Linked DNA regions of Homo sapiens. The protein of the gene in region 1 interacts with the protein of each later gene in a pairwise test. Each region holds a gene or a part of one and is shown in the gene's direction. Other genes may lie near its edges.

The links.
Region 2: the proteins of RAB3IP (region 1) and MB21D2 interact in binary tests that used the Homo sapiens proteins (3 or more experiments, as listed by UniProt).
Region 3: the proteins of RAB3IP (region 1) and CHCHD3 interact in binary tests that used the Homo sapiens proteins (3 or more experiments, as listed by UniProt).
Region 4: the proteins of RAB3IP (region 1) and FAM124A interact in binary tests that used the Homo sapiens proteins (3 or more experiments, as listed by UniProt).

Annotation. Positions count from the first base shown.
Region 1 is NC_000012.12:69,741,269-69,749,085, forward strand, and holds part of RAB3IP (rab-3A-interacting protein isoform alpha 1), read left to right. Parts: intron 1-7,817. UniProt on the Homo sapiens protein: Guanine nucleotide exchange factor (GEF) which may activate RAB8A and RAB8B. Promotes the exchange of GDP to GTP, converting inactive GDP-bound Rab proteins into their active GTP-bound form.
Region 2 is NC_000003.12:192,907,467-192,915,283, reverse strand, and holds part of MB21D2 (nucleotidyltransferase MB21D2), read left to right. Parts: intron 1-7,817. UniProt on the Homo sapiens protein: Probable nucleotidyltransferase that catalyzes the formation of cyclic dinucleotide second messenger in response to some unknown stimulus.
Region 3 is NC_000007.14:133,078,757-133,087,085, reverse strand, and holds the start of CHCHD3 (MICOS complex subunit MIC19), read left to right. Parts: upstream 1-4,995; 5' UTR 4,996-5,148; coding exon 5,149-5,229; intron 5,230-8,329. UniProt on the Homo sapiens protein: Component of the MICOS complex, a large protein complex of the mitochondrial inner membrane that plays crucial roles in the maintenance of crista junctions, inner membrane architecture, and formation of contact sites to the outer membrane.
Region 4 is NC_000013.11:51,245,731-51,253,547, forward strand, and holds part of FAM124A (protein FAM124A), read left to right. Parts: intron 1-5,737; coding exon 5,738-6,471; coding exon of another isoform or gene 6,472-6,543; exon of another isoform or gene 6,544-7,817.

The DNA of each region.
Region 1 (7,817 bases):
TCAGGAAATGGAGGCTTAGAAAGTTGCGATAATTTGTCTATGGTTACTTAGTTGTAGGTGGTCGTACAGCTGGCCAGTGACAGAGCCGGTATTAAAAACTGTATCCGACTGCCCAAAATGGAACGTAGTGCTTTTGTTTCTTACATTCCTGGTCTGCACCTTCTATTAAAGAGCTTTGTAACTATAAGGAGGCACACAGATGACAAGTGTTACCATTTGTATTTCTGGTTTAAAAATATCCAAGTTTTCTGAAGACGGTGATACCAGCATTGCTACTACAGTTACTTTTAAGTCTAGTGCTTATCAAGCGAAGTCCTGGTGTAAGCTTTATACTCATTTACTCTCAGAGTGAGCGAGGAGATAATACTTTATCCCTATTTTGTAGTTGAGAAAATTGAGACCCTGAGACCTTATGTAGTTTGCTCAACGTCACATAGTTAATTAAGTGACAGGTCTAGATTAGATGTCAGACAGTTTGTCTTCCATGTCTGTGCTCTTAACCACTACACTCTGTCATTTCTTCATGTATAAGTGGTAATGCTAAAGAATTGTTTGCTCATAATCACTACATTATCACTTCTTTATGTGTAGCTTATAATGCTGAAGAACTTTGTAATTTAGCTTTTATGAGATACGTAATGTTAATGTAATATGTAATTCTCATTGTGTCACCAGAGATTTTTTTAAATCAAATACTCATTGAGCATCTACTCTGCAAGTCACAGTAGGGGTTAAAGGAAACTGTTCTTAAGGAATATGGAAGGTAGGGCCTTATAATCATTCCCATATCTTTTATAAGTTCTTCAAAATGTAGAACGCACTTTACATATTTTAATGAATGTCAACTAAGACAAAGTGCTAGGATAGTTGAGTAGTGGAGAGGAAGGACAGATGGATAGTGGGTAGAGATATTTGTGCATTGAGGTAATGAGGGAAAGCTTTGAAGATATTCCAAGGGAGTACGCTTTTTCACACTAAACTTTTTTCCGATATAATTCTGATTAAGATGCAGTTCATCAAAGGATAGTAAATTGGTTACTACGCATTTGATATCCTAAAAACAAAATATCTGAGCTTTTGTAAACTGCTTTCTAGCTTGTTTCTCCTTTTTTATGCTACTATCCTTAGTTGTACCAGATGGTACTCTTTTTAAAAATTTTATGCTTTTATAATACTGAGTACCTCTTTTTTGGTATTTATGAACTTTGATATTTGTGTTGTATTTGTAATTGTTTCTAGGGCCCTAGAAACATGTTTATTGGCAAGGTGGTCTCTTCCTCTAGTCTACAAGTGCTTCGAGAGTAGGGCTTACCTCATTTTATAGCTTTAACATCGGGCCAGGTAAGTACTGTGCTGTGTTTGGTGATGGATGATCAGTTGAAGAATGTTAGGATGTTTTGAAGCTGCTCTAGCAGTAGAAATTGAAATGAACATTGAGAAATGAAGGGACAAAGGAAGGAAGAGGAAGATATTTATACAACTGGGAGCATTAACTTGCTATCTCTATTTTCCCTTCTGCTTTCCTTTTCAACTTACCACTAAATGAGGTAGTTTTATAAGCTTACATCGTACATAGTCATGGTTAGAGAAAAGTGGAAAAAGTAATCTGATTTATCTTAGAATATAGGGCAACACGAAATTAGATAACTATAGCCGTAAACTGATATTACTTAGAGGAAAAAGAATGAAAATTATTCAAATAGTTCAAGTTCATGAAAGATTTGATGCTTGTCGTTAACAGTAGGATTGTAAATATAATCATAATGGCAGTTGATGAAATTCCTCTGAGGGGTATGGATACATACACAAATAAGTATATGAATTGACAGCTTAGTATGAAGAAACTATTCAAGAATGTGAGAATGCCCTATGAGCATAAAGGAGCATATAGATGATAGCTTAGAACCACTTAAATAAGTGAATTGTAATTTGATATGCCCAGATAAAAGTAATAGTATTGAATATTTGTTTGGGAGCATCTGGTTGTCAGATAAGGATAAAGTATAAAAGAAAAACCAAAATAAGTTTGAAAAAACAATAAGCAAATTTGTATCAATTCCCTGTGGGGAAAAGAATCATATTTGAACTACATGCCTCATAAAGACTAGTTTTCCCTTTCTTTCCTTTTACCTAAGATAAATAAAGATACCTTCTGATTTGTAAGACAAACCCCTCAGTATGCTTTTGCTATTTCCCCCATTACATTTTTTTCTTTCTTAGATCTTTATAAAATCATACATTTATGTTGTGCTTTACAATGTATACATTTTTACATTGATATGCCATTTGATTTTCTCAAATGTAGGCAGGGGAGATAATATCACTACCATTATAGATGTCAAAACTGAACCTTAGAGAGATTAAATGACTTGCGTCAGTTCACACAGCTTGTCAGTGACAGAATCTGAACTAGAAGGAAGGTTTTCTGAAGTTAGTCTGTTAAAATGCTCAGGTTTTCTCAAACTTCAATTTCTCCAGTTTTGATACTCTCGCAAAGTATTTACTGTTTCATTTCTATCTTTTTCAGCAAAAATGTAGCCTGAATAACTGTCTCCACTCTTTACCGCTTTGCTATTCATTCCTTCTCTAAAGACTCTTGTTTATTTATTTAGTCAGTGCGTATTTCAGCACCTGTTGAATGTTTAGTTGGCATATATTCTTAAGAGAATATGTAAAATGAAGCTTCCATTATTGAGAAAAAGAAATTTGGAAAATGATTTTTTTAAAAAATTATACTTTTAAGTTCTGGGATACATGTGCAGAATGTGCAGGTTTGTTACATAGGTATACACGTGCCATGGTGGTTTGCTGCACCGGTCAACCCATCATCTACCTTAGGTATTTCTCCTAATGCTATCCCTCCCCTAGCCCGCCACTCCCCCACAGGCCCTGGTGTGTGATATTCCCCTCCCTGTGTCCGTGTGTTCTCATTGTTCATCTCCCACTTATGAGTGAGAACATGCGGTGTTCTGTTAATTTAAATAAATATTTAATTACAAATAAATATTTGTAATTAAATATTAGCTCATTGTATTATTACAAATAATTATTTGTAATTAAATATAATATTAGCTCATAAGTTCAGAACATTTTCTGAAAACTGTCAACATAACACACTGCAATAACTAACATCTCTACACATGTCAGGTTGTACATTGAAGTGTTGTGGAATTAGGCCGGGCATGGTGGCTCACACCTGTAGTCCCAGCACTTGGGAGGTTGAGGCAGACAGTTACTTGAGGTCAGGAGTTCGAGACAAGCCTGGTCAACATGGCAAAACCCCATCTCTACTAAAAATACAAAAAATTAGCTGGGTGTGGTGGCAGGCGCCTGTAATCCCAGCTATTCAGGAGACAGATGTTGCAGTGAGCCGAGATTGTGCCACTGCACTCCAGCCTGGGCGACAGAGCGAGACTGCATCTCAAAAAAAAAAAAAAAAAAGTATTGTGGAATTAGTGGGAATTCATTTGTGATCTATTATAATAAAAATGGGAAAATTGTGTAGCCTGATTGACCATTTGAGTAATTTTGCCCTTGGGCTATTAATTACATTTGCATTTATAAACATAGAATGCTTCTTAAAAGATAAATGTGATTTTTTTTGTCATAACTAAAATGCTAGTTTGGGAAGCCAACTTTAAAATTATTATGAAAGCTAATGAAAAAATGATTTTATATATATACTTGTTTTGTTTTTTCCTCCTTTATTATACAGTATTTGAATAAATTTTGAACTTTCCTTTTTATTTTGAGAGCACTATAAATTATGGAGAGTTTCAAATAAGGTAAGTAGACACAATAGTATAATGAACCTAAAAGTTTCCATCATGTAGCCCAGTAACTATCAACAGTGATCAGTCCTCATCCATCCACTTCTCCCACTTCTATATTATTTTGAAACAAATTGCAAGTCCTGTGTAATTTCACCTGTAGGTATTTCAGTATTTCCCAAAGATAAGAGCAGTTAACTGCAGTACTTTTACAAACTTTGTTCTTTATTTATTTTTTCATTTTAATCTACATTTCCTGCTTTTATTATTACAAATTTTCAAAAATTAACACTAATTCCTTGGTATAAAATATCTACACTTTTTAAAAAAATACACAGGAATATGGGTACTATAGTAAATTCAAGTTTCTGTTTATTTTGATTTATGTGCTGTTTTTTTTTTTCCAAGTCCTGTAAGGAGCTGAATAAGTATTAAATTCTGGCATAGTAACAAAACAGAGGAGGAAATGATAACAAAAATAATATAGGGGAAAATAATAGAACACAAAGCAATAGCAAATGCTCATTTCAATAGCAGTGCTTTAGAGAAACTTCAGTTTTGTCTTTGTGAAAGTAAGAGAAGGGTTCAGAGATTAAACATTATTATTCTGTTTGGATTGTTCACTTCTTTTTTTTTAAACTTTAAGTTCTGGGATACCATGTGCAGAACATGCAGGTTTGTTACATAGGTATACACGTGCCATGGTGGTTTACTGCACCCAGGATTGTTCACTTCTTAGAGATCCTTTGCTGTGCTTTAACCTTTATTCCCATCTCCCTACTCCCTATCCATTTCAGCTTCTAAGTGTATCTCAGATGTAGTGGAGTTAGGTGTTAGAGTCAGACACACCAGAGTTTGAATACTAGCTCTGTTACTTTTTGTGTATTTGACAAAATTAATCTCTCTCAGCCTCTTTTTTTTATATATCTGTAAAGTAGGGATAAGAACCATTTCAAATGAATGCTCTGAAGATTAACTGGAATAATTGTGTGTTTGTGAATAAATATAAATGAAGCTGTTCTGAATGTTTTCCATACGTATATATGCCTCCATCCCCTCATTCCCAGTGCATGACCTTGGCATTAGATCAGACAGTAATCGTTTAACCAGCCTCTAGTCTCCAGTGAAGTTCTCATTGCCTTGGGAGTCATTTTTAAATGACTACATTACAATACATCTATACTTTCTAAAATGTAGATCTCACCATCTCTTCAGGATAAACTTTAAGCAACATTTTCTCTTTTAAAGAAGGCTTTTAATGGTCTGTCACAGTCTGCCTCTCCAGCCTGCTTTTCTGTTACTGTCTCCTTTGTTAGTTTTGTTAGTGCCAGACCCTTATTCCCTGACTGTCCTATCCTATTCCCCTTGCCCATCTACTGGACTTGTATTCAGCACTGAAAATCTGACTTATATTTTACTTCTCTTTGAGACATTCTCCTCTTCCCTCTTCCCTCCCCACAACCCTCAGAATAATCATGCCGTGGCTCGTAGAGGCTGTGTGCCATCTCTTTGGTCCATTTGTATCTGTATTCTTAGCACTTAGTATCAGGATTTGCCCGGAGGTGTTGAAGCTGGCAATCATCCTTCCATTCCAACAAGAATAAATATAATTTATCACATATATGTATGAAATAAATGTATTTAATATGTATAATAAATGTTGAAGGTTTTTAAAGAAGTGATGGAATTTGTAACTAATTCATGGAATTTATAACAGTTCAATTCATTATATGCTATTGAAGTAGCAGTCTCATTTTTAATCTCAGAAACTGTTTCTTTCATAATTCATGTTAAATTAAGAAGTCATTTGGGAATTTAAAAAGCATCTGGACTTTCCTCCCTGCCCCCCTTCCACAACTGTCTGTGAATAAATTGAAAGAGGAAAATAGTGCTTACATAATCTTAAACCTTTTCTTTTGACATGTCTTGGAATATTTAATTTCTATTATTGTGATAATACAAGTAAAACAAAATTATACTACAGGATTTATAGATGTTTACTTTTTTTGAGGAAAATCACTCAAAACAATAAGCTTTTAAACCCAAACTCAACAATCATTGCTTTTTGTTCTTAGTGATAGTGCTTGTGCTGATACAATATGATCAAAATATTTGGCCAGTATTAGGAAATGTCCTAGAGATGATTATAATAGTAAGAGCCAGTCTTAATTGGTAAGTGCCAGATATGGTGCTAAGCTCTTTAATTCTCATGACTACCTTAGGAGATAGGTACAGTTTTCTCCCCTTGCCCTTTCGTGTGTGTGTGTGTGTGTGTGTGTGTGTGTGTGTGTGTGAGAGAGAGAGAGAGAGAGGATCTTTCTCTGTTGCTCAGGCTGGAGTGCAGTGGCACAATCACAGTTCGCTATAGCCTCAACCTTCCTGGCTCAGGAGTAGCTGGGACCACAGGCGTATGCCACCACACTCTGCTAATTTTTAAATTTTTTGTAGAGATGGGGTCTCGCTATGTTGCTTTTGGTTGTTGCTTAAACATCTTGGGCACAAGCAACCGTCCTGTCTTGGCCTTCCAAAGTTCTGAGATTACAAGAACCACTGTGCCTGACCTGTCATCTCCATTTTTAGATGAGAAATTGAGACTTAGATCTTCAGGTCACTTTATTAGTAACTGGTGAAGCCAAGATTTGAGACTGATTCCAGAGTACAAGCTATTTCATGAGATAGTGAATACTGGTTAAGTTACCCTGTTGGCTTTTCTTCTAGTAGACAAGTACATTCCTTTATCTACCAGGATTATTTGATCCAATTCTACACTGAAATAGATGAAGATATTTGGGCTCAGATAAGTTACCTGCCCAGGTTCATAGATAGATCTCAGAGCTTGATCAGGAGCCTTAGCTTTCTTCTTCAGGTACTGATGCTTCTACTCTGCTGTGTTGCCATATTACCTCCTTTGTTGGAAATGATTTACTTTCTGAGTGTAGTGCTTTGAGGAATTTTAGTAAACATAGAATTCAAATTATTTAATTTTCACATATATTAAATTGATATGAAAAAAGATAAAAATCACAGCTTTAGTTTTTTTTTTTTTTTCTAAAATTAAAATTCTATGTTTCCCATTTGTCAAGGTAAGTCCAAATTAGGGGAATGTGCTTTTTGTGGAAAAATGGATTTTATTTTTTCTTTTGGACTACTGATATAAATCAAGTTGCTAGATTTCATTTAAAATATGTATATGCATTTTATTCATGTTCTTCAGATGTTTCATTGAAAATATTTTCCCATTAATTCTGATTTCTTGAGTTGTCCTAGGGATGGCTTTTGTTTTCAAGAAACATTTTAAAAATTCACTTTAATTAGAAAAAGTAAATTTCATAAGTTATTAGGATCTTTCTAGGCATTTATTAAATGAGTTAATATGTATGAAATTCTTAGCACCACTATCTGACAACATAGTTAACCTTCAGTAAAGATTGGCTGTTGTTTTTGCTGTGATAGTACTGATTTCGAGAAAGAAAAATTAACAGGAAATGCATATTAGGGATCAGAAGCAAATTGTTTTGATCAACTTTTTCTTGTGGTCTGCAGTCTGCTTTATTACCTGGAGCTCAGTAATAAGGCCAGCCAAGTTGTGTTGGTGATTCACCCATAAGAATTTAATGTGATCATCTTTTTTACATATTGGTCATGATCCTTGACAAGTTTAATTTACTAATTGGGATAATCAGTTGAAATTAGTTCTTTTTGAATCACTCATTGCTTAATGCGAAAGATACTACTGCTTAAAAATAGTAGTTTATTTTACTCTTATAAAGACGTATGTGAAATAAATCTTAAAGCTTCTATGTATTTAAAGGGCAAAAGATTTTCAGACCAGTGAGATTGGCAGCTCATTACCAGCTAAATTACATTTTATGGAAATTTTATGTGCTTGAAAAAGGGATTAAATTTAATCTCAAAATAATCTCCTTTTCAGAAGTGACTTGAATTTAGACAGTATTTAAATGTATCCCCCAGAAGGGAAACATTGTAGGTTAGAAGCACTGCTCAGAGGCATTGTCCTAAGTGCTATATAACAGGGGTCCCCAGTTC
Region 2 (7,817 bases), on another chromosome or scaffold:
GCTTTGGTTCTTTGATGACTATGCAAATGAAGTCTCTTAATGACCCCTAGCTTGTTAAGGTGTTACTTGGGTGGTACCAGGCCCTCATTTCAGGGCGGGGGGGTGGAGGGTGGCCAGTCCTCTTGGCTTTGTTCTGTATCTGAGCTGCACCTGGGGATTGTTAGCAGCTTACAGATATTATCCCCTCACACAGAATGAAGTGGCCAACCACGAATTGGGTGCAAGCCTCTTTAGTGGAGCTGAGAAAAATACTGCCTCATGTTTCAGGCAGTTGGCAGGGGTGAGGCATGTTACTCTCTTTTTGTGTAAGATTGTTAGCCAAGTCTGAAGCCCCTCCAGCTTCACAGATCCTTTTCATTTTGTCTAGTTTGGAGGAATTTTACACTGAAGAGCAAGGAGGTGGTAGACAGCTGTCATAATCAATGACCTGTCAACACCAAGACACTCCACTGTCTTATCAAAGTAGGGTTCTGCACAGGCTGTGGGGTTGATCTGAGCTTGCTGGTGGTCACTGTGGTCTCTGGGGTCTGTCCTGATGCTCTCTGTTTGTACAGAGATTCTGATTTTTTTTTGGAGGCAGGTGTTAGCTGCAATTGTCTAGATTCACTTCTTATTCCTCTGTACCTTGGTCTTTTAGGAGAATGATTGGTGTTATTATCTAGTTAATATTTGAGAGCCCAGACTGTGCGAAAGGCTGGCAGTGCATAATAAACACCATTTATCAAAATTCAGGGAAATTGCCAGAGTTCATTAATGTTTTAATAATATTTGGTATTAGCATAATGTCTCTGCCAGCTCTTTTGTTATCTTCATTCCCTGGTGAGGTTCGATAGAGACTGGTTTGTGTCCCCATTGAACAGATGCAGAAAAGGGGGTATGCAGATGCTGGAGAAGGCAGGAAAGAAACAAGCCGTCACCTAACCTACAGACCAAGTGGTCGGTACCATGGCATGATTTTTACGGTAGTTAATCATTTACTAATCATCTTCTCAGGGCCAGGAACTTCACATAGACTTTTGAGGAGGTATTGCTTTCCCATTACATAGATGAAGATATTGAAATTTAGTGGGGTGAAGAAAGTGGATATCCAGGGTCACAAAGCTAATAGATGGTAGAGATGCTACTGAAACTCAGGTCAGCCTTACTCTAAAACATGTTCCTCTTCTCCTACTTGAGACTATTAAGAATAGATGCATAAAATCCAGAGGAAAGGCTTTGTTTTAAAAAATCACTTCTTTCAGGATTTTGTTTCGATTTTAGCTATAAGTTTTAGCGTAATATAAGTAGATTTCTGGAACAGTCTGAGTTCAAGTATTCTATAATAAGATCTCCTATTTGAATTTTTGATTGAGAAAATCATAGTAATTATAATAAAATGTTAAAATCTATAGTTTCATTCCCAGTCTGCCTCTTGTTGGCTTTGTGGTCTTAGTATTTTCTCTCTCTTTTTTTGAGACAGGATCTTGCTCCGTTGCCCAGCCTGGAGTGCAATAGTATGATCATGGCTCACCGCAGCCTCAAAGTCCTAGGCGTAAGCTATCTTCCTGTCTCAGCCTCCCTAGTGGCTAGGACTAGAGATGTGTACCACCGTGCCCAGCTAATTTTTTATTTTTTAAAATTTTTGTGTAGATGGAGTCTCACTATGTTGCCCAGGCTGGTCTCAAAATCCTGGCCTCAAGTGATCCTTCTGGCTTGGCCTCCCAAAGTGCTGGTATTACAGGCATGAGCCACCATGCCTGGCCAGTTTTTTCATTTATTAAACATGGATAACAGTAAGCATTGTTTTTCAGAACTGTTATGTCAGAATGTGAAATTACTTTGCTAACTAAAAAAGAATATATACGTGAGTTTATTATTTAAATAAATGTTTGTTTATTTATTTATTTGAGACAGGGTCTCGCTCTGTCACCTAGGCTAGAGTGCAGTGGTACAGTCTCAGCTCACTGCAACCTCTACTTCCTGGGCTCCAAGTGATCCTCCCACCCCAGCCTCCCAAGTAGCTAGGAGTGCAGGCGTGTAACACCACGCCTGGCTAGTTTTTTGTATTTTTGGTAGAGACAGGGTTTCGCCATGTTGCCCAGGCTGGTCTCACACCCCTGAGTTCAAGCAATCCTCCTGCTTTGACCTCCCAGAGTGCTGGGATAAAAATATACTTTCTTAGAAGATCCAGTGAACTTAAATTGGAATTATTTCTGCAGCTTGACATCTGAAAGAACTATGCAGTACAATTAGGGTAGCCCAGGAGGATTTTGGCTCATACCATGTGCTGACCATTGTGCTAGCTACTTTGCCTAAGTCCATTAGCTCATGTAATCTTTTTTCCACAACTTTGTAAGCATAAGTATCATGCCTATTTTGGAAGTGAAATAGGTGTTGTTACCCTTTTTAAAGATGAAATGGTGAGGCTCAAAGAAAGAAGTCAAGAACTTAGGCCAAGATCATTCAGAGTTGGAGACTGAATCCAGTTATTCCTGACTCAGAAGCTCATGTTCCTTTTACTGTAGTAGCAATCAGTTTCCATCACTTTTGGGTGAGACATACTATACTCAGTAGCCTGCCTAGTCTGTAGGAGCAAAGATAATTTCTTTTTTTCTTTTTTCTTTTTTTTTTGAGATACAGTTTTGCCCTTGTTGCCCAGGCTGGAGTGCAGTGGCATGATCTTGGCTCACTGCAACCTCTGCCTCCTGGGTTCAAGTGATTCTCCTGCCTCAGCCTCCCGAGTAGCTGGGATTACAGGCGCCCGCTACCACACCTGGCCAATTTTTGTATTTTTAGTAGAGATGGGGTTTCACCATGTTGTTGGCCAAGGCTGGTCTAGAACTCCTGACCTCAGGTGATCCACCCACCTCGGCCTCCCAAAGTGCTGGGATTACAGGCGTAAGCCACCATGCCCCGCCTGAGATAATTTCTTTTTGTCTTCCTGTCTCTGTCCCTCTTTCTCTCCCTCTGTTTTTTTCACGCATTTGACAAATACTTAATGAATGTAATAGTGTTTGCCAATCAGCGTGCAGGGTTCTGAAGATAAAATGGTGAACAAAAACTTTGAGAAATTCATAAGGGCCTTCAGGGACCCCTCCCCTGTTTCCTTTGCCCACCAACTCTAGCAGGATATTTTGCTGGCTGTTTCTCCTTTCAGGCCAATAAGTGCCATGTGGCCATTTCAAAGATGTAAATGCTTGGTGTGGTGCTCCTGGACCTACCATATTTTTAGGCACTTTCTACATCTCCAGAGTGGGTAATTTTGAAGCCCTACCTTTCCAGTGTTTGATTGCTACTTTTCTGTTAATGAATTCCCCCAGCAGGATTTACCATGGAAATTTATGGTGCGTTGGTGTTTTATGGGCCTCCATGTGCTTGGAAAGTTCCCGAGAGTTGTATTCACTATGTGCTGCATCTGTAGAGTGCACAGGATCATCTCGGAAGTTTGTTCTATCTCTGAGAACATTATGTATCCAGGGCAGGGGATCTCTCCAAACATTCATTTTTGTGCTAGTTTGGATTGGTTTCAATTCCCCCTCCATGGTTCTGGGCAGTGGCTGCCCTTCGTCCTTGAGAGAAGAGGCCTAGAACTGTCGACAGTCCTGGGTCTTCCTGTCATTCCTTGTCATGCCACTCATTGGATAATACATTGCTCACAGTTAGGCTGAGCCCCTTTTTAATTCACAGAAATATTAGATTCTAACAATTCAAAATCTCTGGTCCCATTCAGACCTATTGAATCCGAATTCCCTAGAGATCCCCCAACAAGCTGCTCAGCATGTCAACATCCTGTCCTGTGTTAGGCTTGATGTTCTGCATTCTCTGTTCTAGGCACAGTGAGCATGATCCCAGTTGACTTTTGAGACTAGAACCAAGCTGCTGAGCCTAATGAGCAGATAATGTCTGTCTGCTCCTGGAAAGTAATAGTGGAGTTCTTCCACCTGGGACAGAGACAAAAAGGCATAGTGAGTGAGACAAGGGTGTTTACTATGTCACAGGTTTTAATAGGACTTTACTGTATCATTTAATCATCACCATTACACTTTGAGGTTAAAAAAAAAAAACTGTGGTGAACCCTAGAATTAGAAAAATATAGGAATTCATCCAAGTTTACCAGCAAGTGAGTGGCATAGGTGGGACTTAACCTGGGTCAGGATGAATACAAAACCCTGGCTTTTAACAAGGACAATATTCTGCACTCAGGACCAAGAGACCCAGATTTTACCTCTGAATCTCCAGTTATTAACATTTGCTGTGTGACGTTGGGCAAGTCACTCAGACTTTAAGCCTCAGTTTCTAAATATATAAGTTGGGCTTAATCATTATATGTACTTCATGTGTTCAGGTGCATTCAATTCTGAATCTGAAAGTTTTTATATAGTAAGAGAAAAGGGAATTTCTGAGTTCTTGTACCAGCTCTGTTTTGTACTATGTGGTATGTGTTTTACCCTAAGTCTCCTAACCTATGTTGGGCCTAATTCTGCCCGTTTTCCAATGATAGAAAATGCAAAGGAAAAAGTAAAATCACTCCTAAACTTGAATCACCATTAATATTTTGATGCACATTTCTTCTAAACATCTGTGTTATACATATGCTTATACCCAGACATATGTGTACATTTACATAACAGGGATGGTATGGGATCCATGCTCTTTTATTAGGAGTAAATTTATCAATATGCTGTCCTCTACATTTTAAAGAGGAGCTATAAGTTGAAACTTGTAGAATGATGTTTTCCTAGCTTCTTTCATTCATCTCTTTTTATTCCAAAGAAGATGCATTTCTAGAACTTAGAGCACATTCTGTTATTTATGTATATATGTATGAATGACAGGTCTCACTCTGTTGCCCAGGCTGGAGTGCAATGATGCCATCACGGCTCACTGTAGCCTTGACCTCTTGGGCTCAAGCGATCCTCCTACCTCAGCATCCCAAGTACCTGGGACCACAGGAGAGCACAGCCATGCCTAGTTAATTTTTAAATTTTTTTTTTTTTTTTTTTTTTGTAGAGATGGTGGTCTTGTTGCCCAGGCTGGTCTTGAACTCTTGGGCTCAAGTGATTCTCCCACCTTGGCCTCCCAAAGTGTTGGGATTACAGGCATGAGCTACCACGCCCCACCTCTATTCTATTATTTAATAATTGGGAGTAATGAATTCTCACATTGGTGACCTCCGAGGATTTTACCTACCTTATTTGCCATCTTCTGAGGATTTTACCTACCTTTCCATGCCGCCTCCTGTCTCTGCATGTTCTACATTGTCATGTAACATACACCCCAATTTCTCACTTTCTTTCTTTGCTTAGGCTCTTAGGCTCTTTTCTCTCTCTCTCTCTCTTTCTTTTTTTTTTTTTTTTTTTTTTTTTTTGAGACAGAGTCTTGCTCTGTCACTCAGGCTGGAGAGCAGTGGCCGATCTCAATCTTGGCTCACTGCAACCTCCGCTTCCCGGGTTCCAGTGATTCTCCTGCCTCAGCCTCTGGAGTAGCTGGGATTACAGGTGCGTGCCACCATGCCTAGCTAATTTTTTGTATTTTTAGTAGAGATGGGGTTTCGCCATGTTGGCCAGGCTGGTCTTGAACTCCTGACCTCGAGTGATGCACCCACCTCGGCCTTCCAAAGTGCTGGGATTACAGGCGTGAGCCACCGTGTCTGGCCGAGGCTCTTCATCAGAGTTCCCTAACCTGGGTCCATGGAAACAGCATGGAACCTGTGAACTTGAGTGGGGAAAAAAGGACATCTTTATTTGTATTAACCTCTAACTTAAATATAGCATTTTCTTTCATTATAAATATAGATGGGAAACCATAGTGTTATTAGTGGTTCGTATGTTTTTGTTGCCAATAGAAATCCCAGGCATTTTTATTTCACATTACAGTTGTTGCAGATATCTCAAAAAATGTTTACTGCTGCTTTGAAATTATGGTGGATATTAGACTTGCTGCTAGATTTTATTATTTAAGGCACTAATAATCACATAGGGTACTCTATCACAAATTTACTTTAAAAAGGCATTTATTATTATTTTTTTATTTTTTATTTTTTTTTTTTGAGACAGAGTCTCGCTCTGTCACCCAGGCTGGAGTGCAGTGGTGCGATCTCGGCTCACTGCAAGCTCCGCCTCCCGGGTTCACACCATTCTCCTGCCTCAGCCTCCCGAGTAGCTGGGACTACAGGCGCCCGCCACCATGCTTGGCTAATTTTTTTGTATTTTTAGTAGAGACTGGGTTTCACTGTGTTGGCCAGGATGGTCTCGATCTCCCGACCTCGTGATCTGCCTGCCTTGGCCTCCCAAAGTGCTGGGATTACAGGCGTGAGCCACCGTGCCCGGCCGCATTTTGTATTTTAATACTGATTTTCTTGGAAATCCTGTGTGATGTTATCATATTCACTTAAATATGCTATTCTCTGCAGGGATCTATAGGCTTCTACAGTCTGTCGAGAGGATCCATGTCACAGAAACAATTAAATGTCCCAGGTTCTACAGATGACCTTCTGACACCTTATGTCCGCTTTATTTTTTTCTCCCAGCTCAAATGCCACTTGACTCATGAAGCCTTCCTATATGTCTTTGAGAAGAAGAAAATTTGGCCCGGCGTGGTGGCTCATGCCTGTAATCCCAGCACTTTGGGAGGCCGAGGAGGGCGGATCACGAGGTCAGGAGATCGAGACCATCCTGGCCAACACGGTGAAACCTCGTCTCTACTAAAAAAAAAATACGAAACATTAGCTGGGCGTGGTGGTGGGCGTCTGTCATCCCAGCTGCTGTAGTCTCAGCTACTTGGGAGGCTGAGGCAGGAGAATGGCGTGAACCCAGGAGGCGGAGCTTGCAGTGAGCCTAGATCGCGTCACTGTACTCCAGCCTGGGCGACAGAGGGAGACTCTGTCTCAAAAAAAAAAAAAAAAAGAAGAAAATTTACCTTTCCTGTGTTTCCTCCTAATACCTGGTCCCTTTTGTGGCCCTTAGCCTGTTCTTTCCCATGCTTTAAAGAATACCTGGCTTATTTATCTTTGCAGCACCCAGGGGGTCATGCACATAGTAGGTGCTCACTAAGTGTGATGTGACTTGAGTCACTCTTTAAAAGAGCTCTTCCCAGTGAAGCTTTTTATTGCAGTCTCTGAGAAATTAGCACTTTCTAACCTTGTCTCTTTATGATTTTTAAAAATCCATTGAGTTATACTTTATCATTTTCTGGAGTCCAGAAAATTTTGATCTTATCTCCTTATGTGGCAGAGGGATGTAGGGCAAGTTTTTCTACATTCCTTAAGACCTATCCTAGGGCAATATAAGAAATGTCCATAGTGATTGCTGTAGCTTGTTGACTGGGAACAGCAAACTGCAACTCATGACTCATAGGGATGTTCCCTTCCTTGTGGACCCCGGTGTTTCTTCACAGGCATGTGAGGGTACTTCCGGACCTCTGGCATGCCCATACTCAGGGCTTTTCAGAATGCACAGTGGGCACACGTTATCTTTCTCATTATGGCGTTTAGTGTGCTTATCAGTCATCCTCCAAGTGCCTCCACTTGGATGGTTAATCTGGAACGCAAGTCGTAGGAATTCTTTATTATTAGAAACTACTGTTATTTGCGATCAATACTAATTTATCTTTGCACAATGCTTTATAGATGACAATAAATATTCACATTTGGTATGGTATTATCCTTAGGTCAGGCCTTTGAGAAAGGTTGTATAGGAAGTATTAATCCCCATTTCTAGATGGGAGTACTGAGACTCTGGGAGGTGATGTGACTGATTCGTAGGTCACAGAATCGGTTGGAGATCAAGACTCCACCCAGCTATTGGGTGTCTTCTGCCGCAGTCAGTATATCACCTGCA
Region 3 (8,329 bases), on another chromosome or scaffold:
TCAAGTGATCTTCCCACGTCAGCTTCCAGAATAAATAGGACTATATGTGCATACCACTATGCCTAGCTAATACTTTTAACGGTGTTATTAATATGTAATTTACATGTCATAAAGTTCATCCATTTGAAGTGTACATTTCAATAAATTTCAGCATACTTATAGCATTGTGCAACCATCACAATCTAATTTTAGGCATTTTTATCACTCCTCCAAAAGAAACTATGTACCAATTAGAAGTTAAGAAACTATGTAACAATTAGAAGTTACTCTACATCTCACCTCCTCCTACCCTCTCCAAGCCTAATCTTCTTTTGTTTTCCATGGACTTGCCTATTCTGAACATTTCAACCGCCTTTTGTGTCTGGCTTCTTTCACTTGGCATAATGTCTTTGAGGTTCATCCATATTGTAGTATATATCAGTACTTTCTTCCTTTTTATTCCCCATTAATATTCCATTTTCTGGATATATTACATTTTGTTTTTCCATTCATCAATTAATGAACATTTGAATTGTTTTTCATACTATTATAAGTGGAATTGCTCTCCTCATTTCATTTTTGGCTTGTTAATTGCCAGTGTATAGAAATACAGTTTTTGTGTGTGTGTGTGTGATGGAGTCTCACTCTCCCTCCGGGGCTGGAGTGCAGTGACGCGATCTCCGCTCACTGCAACCTCCGCCCGCCATGTTCAAGCGATTTTCCTGCCTCAGCCTTCTGAGTAGCTGGGATTACAGGTGCCCACCACCACGCCTGGCTAATTCTTGTATTTTTAGTAGAGGCGGGGTTTCACTATGTTGGCCAGGCTGGTCTCAAACTCCTGACCTCAGGTGATCTGCCCGACTTGGCCTCCCAAAGTGCTGAGATTACAGGTGTGAGCCACAGCGCCCGGCTACAATTGATTTTTATATGTTGATCTTGTATCCTGCAAACTTGCTGAGTTTTTTTATTAGTTCTAATTAGTTTTGCAGTGGATTCTGTAAGATTTTTCTATTTGTAAGATCATGTTATCTTCGAATAGAGGTAGTTTTACTTCTTCCTTTCCAGTCTGGATGCCTTTTATTTTTCTTGCAGTTTCTTATTCCACCTATCTTTAGTTTGCCATGATTCTTCATGGTACAGACTCAGTGTTATAACTTCTCTTCTTGCTATCTTTTTGTATGCTCTGAATTTTCAAGTTTAAATTTGAGAAAGTGAATACAGAGATACAGAAAACGGAGAAAAACATGGAGAATCTGAGTAGCTGAAGTATTAGCTATTATTTTTCTTAGGGCAAAGCTTTGCATTCTAGCTCATAGGTGTCTGGCTAGTAAATGCTGCCTTTGGATTAGATGACTATTAATAAGCTGTAGCCAGAAAGAAAGGGAGGCCACAAGTTCTGGGTAGCTCAAGAAGGGATTGTATAGGCATGACTGGCCTAGAAATTGACATGGATAGAACAGTATTGTTAGAGAAGGCATTTTGTTTTAAAGAATACATTGAATTTTTTTTAAACTCAGAAGGCATCTTTGTAATGTTGGTTAAAATGCATTAGGATGTCTAAAACATTTTTGGATTGTCTGTTTGATTAGACCACTTATATGTGTTTGAATCATAAAACATGAAGGCACTCCACTACCTTCTCATGCTTGGCATTCATCATCTTTAATATATTTGGTTGAAAGAACTCTACTTAATATTCTAACTGGAGATATATATATATATATTTAAGACAACTAGTGGTTTCTTCATCTCTCTATTCTCTCCAAGGAACGCTTTCTTTGTACTTGGTTATTTTCGTAAGTGCTTGTTGAGCATGTGTGTTATATAGAACCTCCGATATGCCCTATATATTGGGGTAATAAGTGAGAGTGTGTTTGTGGAGGGGAGGGTCCCCAAAAAATGAAAGTCATAATTCCTTGGAGCTTTAGTTCCCAGTAGAAGAAAGAGTTAGGCTGGGCATGGTGGCTCATGCCTGTAATCCCAGCACTTTGGGAGGCTAAGGCAGAAAGGTTGCTTGAGCTCAGGAGTTTGAGACCAGCCTGGGCAGCATAGTGAGACCACAGCTAGGTGTGGTGGCACACACCTGTAGTCACAGCTACTGGGGAGGCTGAACTGGGAGGGATTGCTTGAACCTGGGAGGTTGGGGCTGCAGTGAGTCGTGATTGGGCCACTGCATTCTAGCCTAGGCAACAAAGCAAGACCCTCTCTCTCTCAAAAAAAAAAAAAGAAAAAAGAAGGAAACTTGAGAACAAGTACAAAGTAGCACGTAGTCTCATAACTGCAAAGTAACATAGTACAATTTTAAAAGAATATAATGATGAGATGTAATCAACACTCTGCTACTGACCAGGGATATAGAGATTAAAAAGACATAGTTTCTGCTCTAAAGATTCATACAGTAAGGTTGGGAGCGGTGGCTCACGCCTATAATCCCAGCACTTTGGGAGGCTGAGGTGGGAGGATCATGAGGTCAGGAGATGGAGACCATCCTGGCCAACATGGTGAAACCCCATCTCTACTAAAAATACAAAAAAATTAGCTGGGTGTGGTGACACGCACCTGTAGTCCCAGCTACTCCGGAGGCTGAGGCAGGAGAATTGCTTGAACCTGGGAGGCGGAGGTTGCAGTGAGCCAAGATTGCGCCACTGAACTCCAGCCTGGCGACAGAGCGAGACTCTGTCTCAGAAAAATAAAAGATACATACAGTAATAGATCAGCACATAATTGGATTCATACAGTAATAGATCAGCACATAATTGAAGCTCAAAAATGCGACTGCATTGTAGATGCCTTTGGCATAAGAGAATGCCATGGTGTGTTGTGGCCTGCTGCTTTTAATGTTGAGAGGGATTAATTGAAGAATAGTACCATCATTAACCTAATTTCTATTGAGAATCATCTGCCTCTGTAAAACTAAGGTCATATGGCTAAACTTATGTGTAACAGTGTGTTTAGCAAAAAAGAAATATGTAGATGAATAACCTAATAACTATGTACTGGTCTCGTAGAGGTGAAATGTTGAACTATTAATAGGAACTTTCCACAATAGATCATCTCAACTTTTCTGATGTAGTTTTAATTCCTCCACTAATTTATGCCATCTTTGGCAATCACTTAACTTTTCTCTGCCTAACCCTATTATGGCCTAACTTATGTAACTGAACTAGTAGTAGAAGGAGACACAAAAGTGGAAAGTAAATTCTCTACATACTTGGTGCAAATAATTTATTCTATGAAGAAATGTATTTTCTCATAGACAGGTTTGAAAACCATAGTACTTAAAATTTTACTTTACAAAAAGAAAAAAATACAGATACTAGTTCATGAGACAAGAGACATGGACCAAACACACGTTTACGTTTTTTATTTTTTTATTTTATGGCTACTACTAAAATGCCACCATTCATGTACTGCATAACAGTGTTTCAGTCAAAGAAGAACCTCATTTCTGGCAGTGGAATCATAAGATTATAATGGAGCTGGAAAATTCCTGTCTCCTAGTATTTACTATACTATGCTTTTTATCTTTAGGTTAAAGTGCATTCTTTCTACCTATATAAAAAAGTTAACTGTAAAACAGCCTCAGGCAGGTCCTTCAGGAGGTGTTACAGAAGGTGCTGTTATCATAGGAGATAGCTCCATACGTGTTATTGCCTCTGAAGACCTTTCAGTGGGACAAGATGTGAAGGTGGAAGACAGTGATATTGATGATCCTGACCCCGTGTAGGTCTAGGCTAATGTGTGTGTGTTTGTCTTAATTTTTAACAAAAATGTTTAAAAAGTAAAAAGTAAATAATTTCAAAAATAGAAAAAGCTTATAGACTAAGTATATAAAGAAAGAAATATTTTTGTACAGCTATATAGTGTGTTTGTGTTTTAAGCTAAGTGTTATTAAAGAGTCAAAAAGTCACAAAAAAAGAAGTTTATAAGTTTAAAAAGTTACAGTAAGCTAAGGTCAATTTATTCTTGAAGAATGAAAATATATGAAAATAAATTTAGTGTTGCCTAAGTGCACAGTGTTGATAAAAGGTACAGTACTGCATAGTTGCGTCCCAGGCCTTCACATTCAACTCCCCACTCACTCACTGACTCACTCAGGGCAACTTCCAGTCCTGTAAGCTCCATTCATGGTAAGTGCCCTATAGAAGCATACCATTTTTTATCTTTGATTTTTTTTTTAATGGAATGCTTCAGAAATTCATGTGTCAACCTTGCTCAGGGGCTGTGCTAATCTCTGTATTGTTCAAATTGTCCTAGATGTGTTGCCAAAGCAATCACTTTTACACTGTTTTTGCTGTAGCTTTTCTATGTTTACATATATTTGTACACACAAATACCACTGTGTTACAATTGCCTACAGTATTTAGTACAGTGACATGCTGTACATCTTTGCAGCCTGGGAGCAATAGGTTACACCAAGTAGCCCAGGTGTGTAGTAGGCTACACCATCTGGGTTTGTGTAAGTACACTCTATGATGTTTGCACAACCACAGATATCACAGGGTCACCTAACGAGGCATTTCTCAGAAGTAGTCTTCATTAAGCTACCCTACGACTGTAATGAAACGCTAAGTTTTGAGCCAGGAATTTGTGTATAGAACACTAGGAATGGCTTCATTAGTATCATGCATCTTTTTCATTAAACTGTGAGTCCCTTTGAGAGAAAGATTGTGTCTCTGAACTTAGTGGCCTAAATTTCTAGAATTATGTCTTCAAAAAGTTGCCCAGTTAGGCGTCTCTGGGGAGTCAAAACCACAACTCCCAGAATGCCGTGCTCCCTTAGCGCGCTCAGGCGCGGGGAGAGAATGTCCCATCACCCACCGCGCCAGATCGAGACCACAGTTCCCACTACACCCAGGGACTCCGCGGAAAGCTATCAAACACCACCTGTTGCCATAGCATCCGGGTCGGGTGAACCAATCCGGGCGCCCTCGCCGAACAGAGGCGGGCAGTTCGCATCGCCGACCAACCTGAGGCGTTTTTGTTGTGGCGCGTGACCGGAGGAGGCGGGAGCTCAGGACCGGCGCCTTCTCCTTGCTTCTGGGGGTCGTGGCCTTGCTCCCGCTGTGCGGGAAAAGAATCCAGGCCCTTCCACGCGCGTGTGGGTGCGGGGGCCCCGAAGTGCTCGTGGTTCCCCGCTAGGTCTCCGCTGGGGCAGGAACCGGAATCATGGGTGGGACCACCAGCACCCGCCGGGTCACCTTCGAGGCGGACGAGAATGAGAACATCACCGTGGTGAAGGGCATCCGGGTGAGTGCCCGTGGACGGGCGGAGGGCCAGTGGTTGGACTCGGACCCCAAGGCCCCATCTTCTCCGGACCCGCTCAGCCTGGGTTTCTCCCGTCCTGGACCCTAGCGTATTAAGGCCAGAAGCCCAGGTGTCTGGGAAGAAGCCTAGAGTTTCAAGACGTGGGACATTCATTCAGAGATAGTTCCTGGTTGTGCCAAGTGCTAGGCACTGCTGGGGCGGGCGGGGAATGCCAGGTTGAATTATACCCTGCAAGGGCTCACAGTCTACTCGTAACTGTACTGCTCCCTTGTTGCAGGACCGTATTTGAAACCCATACCTCGGTGTACTTGTCTGTGAAATGGTTTTCCTGGGTTCAGGACCCAAACCCTGCTTTTCCACTGTGCACACCCTGTCTCCCAGGGTGAATTGGCATTTTAAGGATTGCCTTTGCTTTGTGTCATTTAGTGCTCTCCCTCTGATAACACCCCCTCCTCCCACCCACTCCCCACACCCTGTCATCCTCCCTCCCAGCCCCACAGTCTTTTCTGACCTGCCTGGGGCGGCTTCTGGCTTCTCCCTGCTTCACTTTCACTTGATATCTCCTCTTTCCCAGGCGCCTCCTCTGTGACCTGCTGCGCCGAAGTTTTGGATTAGGCCCAGTTGCTTCAGGACTAGTGTCTGCCAGTCTGATAGGGGCTGAGATGGGTTTGCAGTTTTTCATACCAGTAGAAGTAATGTAGTCATTTCTGACCAACGTTGTAGAGCACTTTTTTTTTAATGCCCTTTGCATGCACCTGATACATAAACTGAAAACCTGGTTTTTCTCTAGGGTGTCAGTATACCAGCACTAACTTCATTAACACACTCTCCGCTGCGCCTGAATTTGGAGCCTCACATTTTTGGACGTATGATGCCTGAACCTAGTAAATAAAGCAATTTTGACTTCAGAAAGTTTTATAATAATTTATATATTTTTTTCTGTTATCAACCAGCGTAAATAAATTACATTTGTAAATTATTTTTAACAGTTGTTACCAGGAAATAAAACTTCTTAAATATTTAAAATGTTTAAAAACTTTTTCTTCTGAAACTGTTACCTTGAGAATAATTTATTAAACTTTTCTTCATAGAAACTCAGACTGTCGAACTCAGTTTTTGGTCTGTGACCAGTATTTCTTTATATCATGCTAATTAATGGTAGTACTACATTTTGTAATAAAATATCTGAGGCTGTATTCTTTGAGTTATTGTGTTTCAGTTAGTACTCTTTGGAGTAAAAAATTACTGTAAACTTTAAGTTTTATGCAGAGATTTTAAGACTCTTGCCATTAGGCTTTCAGTACGCAACTCAGAGTGAAAAATAATTAAAAGACAAAGCAAAATAAGTTTTGAGTGAGAAGACATTGGTTAGAAAAAAATGTATAAATCCATATTCTCGTGCTTTAGTACAGACACAGTGCTAACAGCAAACAAAATCGAAAGAGAATGTGGCCACAGCACAGAGATTCATATCAAGTATTAGATAAGGTTGGATGGAATAACTGTGACAGCAGGGATAGGTATTCTATTAAAATGGAAAAATTGTCTAAAAAACCTTTTTAAGATTTTTGTTTTTTAAAAAGAAATGTCCTTTGGTCATATAACTTGACAGCATTCCTCATTTTTTTCCTTTCTTATATAGTACATTTTACCTGTATTGCTAACAGTTCAAGCATGATCATTTTTACCTCTATGCTTTTCTTCAGAATATACCCTTCACCTGGAATGCCCTTGCGCTGGTCTCCATTGCTTCAAATCCTCCTTTTACATGAATGTTTTGCAATCTCTCTGAGCTTCAGTTTTCCCATCTGCAAAATAATGCAACTGAGTACATCCCTCAGATCTCTAATATTTTCCAGTCCTGAAATCCTGTGAGTCTGGTGGCACTGTAAGTTTCTTGTAGCCATACTTAGCCCATTGCAGTTTCCTCTAGAAGTGACATCCATTGAAGTATTGAGTACACAGAGGTCATTCTGATTTCTTTGAGCTCATGATCAAAAGAGTATCAACTTGAAATTAAACAGACCTCAGTTTAAATCTCAGGTTAGATATTTATTACTTAACCTGATTGCCTGTGTGATTTTTGTCTGGGTCTTTTGTAGATGTTTTTCAGTTGATCTTAGTATTTTTCTTGGCTTGAATTAAGCAGACATCAGTTTAAATCGCAGGTTAGTTATTTATTAGCCTGTGGCCTTTGACAATTGACTTCTTTTATTTCCTTATCCATAAACGGTAATACCATCACTTCCCTTGATTGGTTATTGTAAGAAGATGAGGTAAGGTATGTAAAGCACCTGGCACATTGTAGATTTTCATTAAAAAGGCAGCCATTATTATGATAGGGTTCCTTTCACATGCAAAGTTTTAAGATTCTTTGAAAGTGCTGTGCTGTGTAGTGGAAAGAGCATGTGCCTTGGAACCAAGCAGACCTGGGTTGGATTCTATCTCTGCCTCTCACTAGCGGTGTCGCTCTGGACAAGTCACTTTTCATTGTGTTTCCGTATTTAGTATTTCTGGACAAAGCCTACTTTGAGAATTTGACATAATGTATATCTAGCACAGTGTCTTGTACTTTGACAGTGTTTGCACTTGTGAATAATAGCTGTTATTAGAGCTGTTCAAAAGAATGGATATGTGAACTTAAGTGAACTTCAAATTTTAATAAAAATAAGAGCATGTTGTGCCCCAACAGGTGTACCTAAAAGGGTATGGACTGGGAAATGGGAGTCTTACATTCTGCCCTAATTGAGGGTGTTTTTTTGTCTAGGTCTGTTGTAGATGGTTTTTATTTCTTTATATTTTTCTTGGCTTTAAATAGTCACTTTGTTCCCTTCTGAGACATGGGGAAGGATAAGAAACCGCATTCTCAGTATGTCCATAAGCCATTGTTTTTAGCTTAGTTTGTTAGAACATGGTGCCGATGAGGCACCAAACTTCAGTTTTGAACTGCAGTTAGGTTAGTTCAGCTTGGCTGAAGAAAACGTTCCAACTTTGACCAGTTGTCTAGCATTTATGTCATTGGTTGTAAGAAATGAAAGTTTACCAAGCTTACTAATTCAACAGAGGCAGTCACTGCTGGAAA
Region 4 (7,817 bases), on another chromosome or scaffold:
TCAGTTAGTAGTTCATCTATCATAGTGTTGCTTTAAATGAAAGATTAAATGAGATAGTATACATAAAGCTTGTAGGACAATGTCTGGCAAATAATAAGAGCATAATAAATGGTTGCTATTGTCTAAATTAATTTTCTGTTAAATTTAAATGGCCAGAAACAGGATACACAGGAGAGGTAAAATGTTGGAAAAAATATATATATAACAAATGCCCAGGCTAATAGTACACTTTCTGCATCATAGAAGGCCTGAGCTTGTACACTGCTTTCTTTAACACTGTTTTCATTTTGTGTTATCAAAGGAAAGCCTAATTGTCTATAATCAAATGAAAAAGAATCTCCCTTCTCCTTAGGAAAACACAAACTAATTTGAAAGCCTTGTTAATGGTGTGCTAGCAGCTCCCATCCTCCCACCAGCCTTGGGGCAGTCTGTGCCACTGCTCTGTTTGGTTCTGGTCTGTGTTTTACCATAATTCAACAGGTGCTCGCTAGGTCCTTTGAGAAGACATGTAATAGATATGATAAAGGCAGAGCACATCCCACAGTCATGTCGTCTGTGTTTCTCCAGGGAGGCATAGAGACTTTTCGTGGCAATTAATTATTCACATTTTCTGTCCTTCCCCTCAAATGCTTGGTTTCCTATCCAGCTCCACAGAGGCATGTTTCTCGTGGGGTGGGGGGGGGTGTAACTCTAACACCTGATGACAGCTTGAAGCTGCGTTCTGTGTTCTTTGCTTGTGTTTTCAGGTCATGTGCAGCGGGTACGTGCTAGTGATGGCCAGAGCATGCTAATGCCACTGCTCATTCTCCTTAGCTCTTCTGGGGCAGGGTCTTAGCCACTTACATGTCCCTGGTTCAGGCAGTGCAGAGGGGGCTCTGGGGGTCGGGTCTTCGTCATCCTGGCTCGCCTGCTCTTGGCTGCCTCCCAAACTGCCAGGCGAGCTGGTACTTGGTGGAATGCCTTTCAGCTCACCCCCCTGCTCTGAGGCCGGGCATTTCGCCCTTCTGCAGAGCTGTAAACATTCACTCATCCATGCAGACTTCAGCATGGTCTTTGTTACTGCTCTCAGGGAAACCTTTGTGTAACTGATAGAGATGGCACAGGGCTGAGCGCCCTGACAGCTCCACTGGAGAGTCTCAGAAGCCACCTTCTCCCGGGCCTCTTCACACCCAAGCCTCTCACGCCATGCTATAGGCTTTCTTGGGTGACTGTTATGCATTCCTTTCACTTGTGCACCCACCTGTGGTGCTGGCCTGTTTGAGTTGCCCTCGAGGGCACTGCTGAGATGTGAAGACCTGGGCATGTGCCAACAGGGAGGGCAGTTTCTAGCTTATTCTTCCTCCAAGACCTGGGGCCAGAGGAAAGAAATGTAAGTGGGTGTCCAAGAAATGAAGCTGTTGGCTGGTGGCTGGGAATGAAGCCAGTCAGAATGAGGTGGGAGAGCCGTGCAGAGGGGCCAGGCGGGAGCTGCCGTGGCCACACATGGATGGAGAATGGCAGCTGGCCACTCTGCTGTGAAAGGGATACAGTGGAGAGGCGAGCACACTTCTCTGCAGAGCCTGGGCTGATGGTGCACACGGAACTCGGATACTGGAGCTAGTGCTCATACTCTGTGTGACCTTGGCAGGCTACTTCACCTCCTGTGCCTCAATTTCCTGGTTTCTAAAATGGGGACAATCATAGCACCTCCCCTTTCTATGGTGGTTGTAAGGATTAAATGAGTTCATACATGTAGAACATGGAGAAAGCACCCATGTTAGCTAACATGTCACCCTGTGTACCTGGCCACATGCACACCTGGGGGTGGGATTAGGACCTTGAAGGGACTTCCTGGTGGCCCAGGCAGCTTCTTTTCCCAGACTTTCCTTTACTTCGCATGGTGTTTTTCCCCCCTCATTAAAATCATCTGTCATTTTTTTCAGGTAAAATTCTTGACCCCTCGTTCAAAGCCTTTCTGTCCTTTTCCATTTACATGGAGCATTCACTGATGCTTAGCAAAGTCGCATGTCTCCACTGTTGGGAGTTCAAGGCACCAGAGAAAAGTGAAATCCATTTAGATGATGTGGTATTTTCTCCTACTTTTACTGGAGTTACTCACTGGCAGAAAATTTCATCGCAGCTTTACTACTTTTGCGTCAACTGTACTTCTGCCGATCGTGTCATGAATGTTCAACCAAACCGAAAGAAGCCAGGCAGGCAGAAAGGGCAAGCAAAGAAAAGGGCCAGAATTATCTCTGAATTCTGATTGTGTTCCTAGCCATCATGATGAATTTTCATGATTCAGGTCTATATGGGGGCACACGCTTATCAGATAACTGCATACAAATGAGAATATGATCTGAAAGTAACTGGCCCATCCTTAAATTCAGCCCTTCACCTAAGCAACACAAAGATCCAGTTGCCAAAGGACATCTCTCCTGGAAGTCATTTGGGCATCTCAAGCCAAGTGGTCAAGGTGGAACTTTCTGTCTTTTCCCACAAATCTGCCCTTCTTCCTCTATTTCCTATTTCAGTTAAACATCACATCAGATCACTTGTTCAAGCTGGAAACATCAGGGTATATACTCCTCTCCAACTTTTCCTACACCCCACCCACCAGGCCTGTGGGCTTCCTGGCCTGCCATTTGCATCTTTATAGCCTGTGAATCCATGCCTCTTCTATTTACCCACTTGACTGACTGTCCTGGATCTGTAAGTACTGCTGGGTAACAGCCACCTCCAGTCTCAGTTTCAGGCTTGAAACAACCATCATTATTATTTCCCATTTGTCTTGGATCAGCTGATCTAGACCATGCTCACCTGAGTGGCTCTTGCCCTGCGTCTTTGGGTGTGAAGTTTGGCTGATCTAGGGCAGGCTCAGCTAGAGTGGGTCTGTTCCATGTGTCTCATCCCCTTACTGGGACCGGTGGGCTCCCCCAAGTATGTTCTTATGGAAATGTTGGGAGCACAGGGAGGCAAGCCAAAACACATGCCACTGCTGTCTCTTTCTCCTGCCCAAAGCTAGGCATATAGTCTCATCCTAAATCAAAGGGTGGGGAAATACGCCACCCATTTAGTGGGAGGAGCTACACAGTCACATGGCAGAAAGTAAGGATACATAATAGGATAAGGAACTGAAGCCACTAACATAATCTCCTACTCTGCCAAGTCCTTGTCATCTCCTGTCTGGACTCTTCACTAGTCTTCTAACTCCTTATTTTGCCTATAGCCAACTTTCCCCCAACTTGATCCTGATACCCCTTCATAAAACCTTCCTTTGCCCCTTATCAACTACTGAATTGAGCTGAGGCCCCATACAGCTTGGTTCTAATCCATTTTTCCAGCTGCATCTGTTGCCATGTCCCAGAATTCCCCACGGCCCCCTTCCAAATGTGCTTGTTTTTTGCACAGTTCTATACCTTCGTAAACACTTCCTAATCTCCTCAGCATTTGAGGGCATCATGAGCAAGAGGATGTGTTCTGCCTTTACCCTTCAAGACCCAGTTCATTTGGTGCCTCCTCCAGGAAGCCTTCTGCAGAGCCCTCCTTCTTTTGTCATATGTAGTAAGTTGGAATTGCTCTATGCTCATATTTAACTCATACAAATTTGAGAATACATGCTCAGCCAGCAGGAAGGAAAAAGAGGGAAGACAATTTAAAGGATTCCACTTGCCATTCTACTCCATGAATGTGGAAAGCTGAAACTTGACTCCGCTCTTACCTTAGTCATCCTTAACTTCCAGAAGCCTCTCAGGTTCCCAAAAGCCTCTTGTAGAGTGAAGGGCAGGGTTTGATGAGTAAGGGTTCAGTGTTTAAAGAAACAGACTATTCTCTTATACATGGCCCTGCAGCAAAATGGTTATTTTATGTGGTGTTCAACTAAAGAAACATCTATCTGGCCATCTTGTCTTGTTACAAGTTAGTACTTTATTGGAAATTTAGGAGACTTTCAGTGTTAATCGTGTCTATAGATAACCTTTGCTTCACAGTGACTTTAGAATCTAGCCCCCACCCCAAGTTACTATTCCGTTGTATTCCTTTTAGGCATATATCAGATTTAATTTTACTTTTTGATGTTTGTGTTTCCCCACTCAGTCACAAAGTTCTCATCTTATGGGCTTATGGGTCTTCAGAGGGCTGCTGCCTATGGTTGTGCAGGTTGTGCACTGCACAGTTCTCAGGGAGCATATCATGCAAGAGTATACGTAAATGTACTCCCATAGTGCTTGGGCATACATAATTAGTGCCAGCTTCTTTGTGTCCCCAGTGCCTGGTACAAACTGATTGCTTAACAGATGTGCAAATGAATGCATGAATAAGAGAGAAGACAGCAAGCTGGACTGTTTTCAAGTGAGACACTTAATAGGGTTGGGAAGAAAATTCAGACGGGTTTTGATCTGATTAAATTAAAACCATGTTATTGCAGCTGTACATGGTGAAATGGACTTGTAAGCCCACTTGGAATGTCTACCTACCATAAAAAAATTTTCATCCTGTGACTTGATCAAGGTTATGATTCTGAAAAGCACACCACATTGATAGAACACAATTGACCACATGATCACTGTATGCCTGACACCCCTAGTGGACACTGTGAGGCATGTGTTTTGTAAAGGCAGATCTAGATTCTAGGTGAATCTAGCCCCCTAAATCACAATTGGCCTAAAGATGTCTCAATTCCCTTAAATGAGACCTAAAACTTCTATAAATGCAAATAGAACCATCTTTTAAAAGAGCAAGCCTTTTATCAGGTATAGTTATATGATTTAGAAATATGCCAAGTGTGGCCAAAAAACTGTCACCCCATGGGAAACTGTTGCCAAGTTAAACAGTCAACTTCATGCTTGGAATTCAACAGTTTCAGGTGTTCCGCCAGAGATCACAGGGAGGGTAACCGACCCATTCAAGTTGTGTGGGCTTCTGAGTGGATGTGGCCCAGCAAGGGACACAAAAGGTAGCCTTTCATGGGCAGTCATGGTCTCACCCTGCTTTCCTTCCACCCTAACCTCAGCCCCAGTAAGCTCCAACAGCAAGAACACTGTGCTTGGCTCTGGGGGTCATCCTTCCCTGTGTCTCCAGCAGCAACATGATCTTGGCCAGGACCCCACAATAGGGGACACTGTGGGCAGGACTCATCAACAGCCAGGGCATGACCTGTCTATAGAGTAAGCCCCAGGGGGCAAGCACAGGTCTCTCTTGTCCTCCATCATTCGCCTTGTGCCTCACTCCCTGTGAGGCAGGTAGGAAGGAGCCCATGAGTGTGTGTTAACAAAATAAACAAATGAAATAAGCAAACCAGAGGAGTGCGTTTGTGTAGGGAACATGTATGGGGCAAGGCCCTGCAGCTATTTCAGGAAATACTAAATGGTGTCCACAAGATGCTATGCCATCTTTTCTAATGGGCCTGTTGTTCCTTCCAAGTCACTAGACTTGACTTTCTATTTGTCTGATACGTAAATATAAAGTCAAATGTTCCCTATACCAACCAACCTGATGAAATACAGGACCAAGGTTCTCCTCACCCTGTCCAGCTTAGAAACTATTCACGTAGCAACAGCCCTTTCCTCTTTGGCTGCTAAGGTGCTGGCATAGTAGTTTTTATAGGTAAACTTGGGATCAGAAAATCACAGGTCATGGAGTCAGTTCAGTTAGAATTTGACTTCTCTTCCTGTCAAGCCTGTACACGTCATCACTGGACACTTTAATGAAATAATCATAATTGTATTCATTCATCCATTCGTTTTTTGCGTGCCCCCAGGTGAGCTTTCCGTTGAAGAGGCGCAGGACCCTTTCCTGGTCAGCATCCACATAATCGCAGACCCAGGGGAGTCCCAGCCCCTGCAGGAGGCCATCGACAACGTCCTGGCGTGGATCCACCCCGACCTCCCGCTGTTCCGGGTGTCCGAGAGGCGGGCGTCCCGGCGGCGGCGGAAGCCCCCCAAGGGCGCTCAGCCAGCGCTGGCTGTGGTGCTGTTCCTGCAGGAGGAGTACGGCGAAGAGCAGATCCTGCAGCTGCACCGCACACTGCAGCAGCCGCCCTGGCGCCACCACCACACCGAGCAGGTGCACGGCCGGTTCCTGCCCTACCTGCCCTGCAGCCAGGACTTCTTCACGCTGGCCCCTGGGACGCCGCTTTGGGCCATCCGGCCCGTGCACTACGGCAAGGAAATCGTGCGCTTCACCGTCTACTGTCGCTACGACAACTATGCTGACAGCCTCAGGTTCTACCAGCTGATTCTCCGGAGGAGCCCCAGCCAGAAGAAAGCGGACTTCTGCATCTTCCCTATTTTTTCCAACCTGGATGTGGACATCCAGTTCTCCCTGAAAAGACTGCCCTGTGACCAGTGCCCGGTGCCCACCGACTCCTCCGTGCTGGAGTTCCGAGTGAGGGACATAGGCGAGCTCGTGCCTCTCCTGCCCAACCCTTGCAGCCCCATCAGCGAGGGGCGCTGGCAGACGGAGGACCATGATGGGAACAAGATCCTCCTACAGGTACTGGGGGGACGCCTGTCTGTCTGTTTAGGGGACCTGAGAAACCAGTTAGCTTTGCCTCAAACACTATAGTACCAGTCACAGAGCAATGATCAAGGAAGGAGAGATCAGTGACCCTCTGCCCAGCTCCTAGTCGAAGTCAAAGTGGCCATACAGGATCCCAACAAAAGAGGGGGCAAGAAAGACTCTTCCCATTGGTTCTCTTCATTTCACTTTCAGCAAACATGTTCCCAATTCTTCCAGCTGCCCCTTCTGTCCTCCCCTATTGGGCATCCACTAAACACCCATGACTCCTGGGGATTTCAAATGAGCTTATAAGCTAGGGAATTTGCTATTAAAGATTCCTGAATCTATGCCCATGTACTTAGAGAGTTTTTACCACTGGATTCTTCCCTCCCACAAAGGAACTTCAGGAAAGCCCATCTATCTGGAAATTTTAAAATATATATTGATGTTCATAGAGGAGATAGCTGTTCTCTTCCTTCAGGTGCCTCCCCCACCTTCTACTCTTGCATCCTTCTACTGCTGGGCAGCAGGTTGTTGAAATCCTGTGATCACTTGGAAAAGGATGTCCCGTTAAACATTTTAAGGAGTAAGTGATGCCTTGGGAGCTTCTGGTTTCACTAAGCTTGGAAGGGGTGAAGGAATTCATTTTAAGTAGGCTGCCCTAGTCCTTCCATGGTAAACTCTTTAGCTTCATCATCAGCTCCCTTTCTCCTCTCATCCTTCCAGGGGTTGTCCCAGACTCATTAGAGATAATTAGTTATACTCAATTCAAAATTCAGCATGTATATTACAGAACATCCTACATCTGGTCCTACCTGAGAAATGCTTTCCAGACCCAGGCTTTCTTGATTTTACAAGTAAATTAGTTCCAGGAGTATAGGGCCTTGTTTTTCTGAAAAGCCTCTACCTCTGACGTCTCAATTTTCACACTTGGCTACCCGAAAAGAGAAAGTTGATAGTGAATTGGGGGACATTGCCTTAAGAGGCAAAGATTGTGGTTACTTGAATCACAGGTAAAGTTTCATCGTTTTTGTTGGTTTTGGCTTTAAGCACCAGAACTATAATCCACATATCATGAAATGAAGTCAGAATTTGGCACATGTCAGATAACTGGTTCAGACTACAGCCAGGCCTCATTTCTCGTCAGAAAGGTCACCTTGAGATACTTACTATTTATAGGAACTAGATAATTTTGAAACTTCCTTTTGAACTGTGCAGATAAGGAACTAAGTAATGTTTTATTATTCAATATGCTAGCATTTGCTCTATAATCCCTTTTGAAATGTGAGAAAAATTGTCTCTGTGTTTGAAGAATGCCACATCTTTATGCAAAATATAAT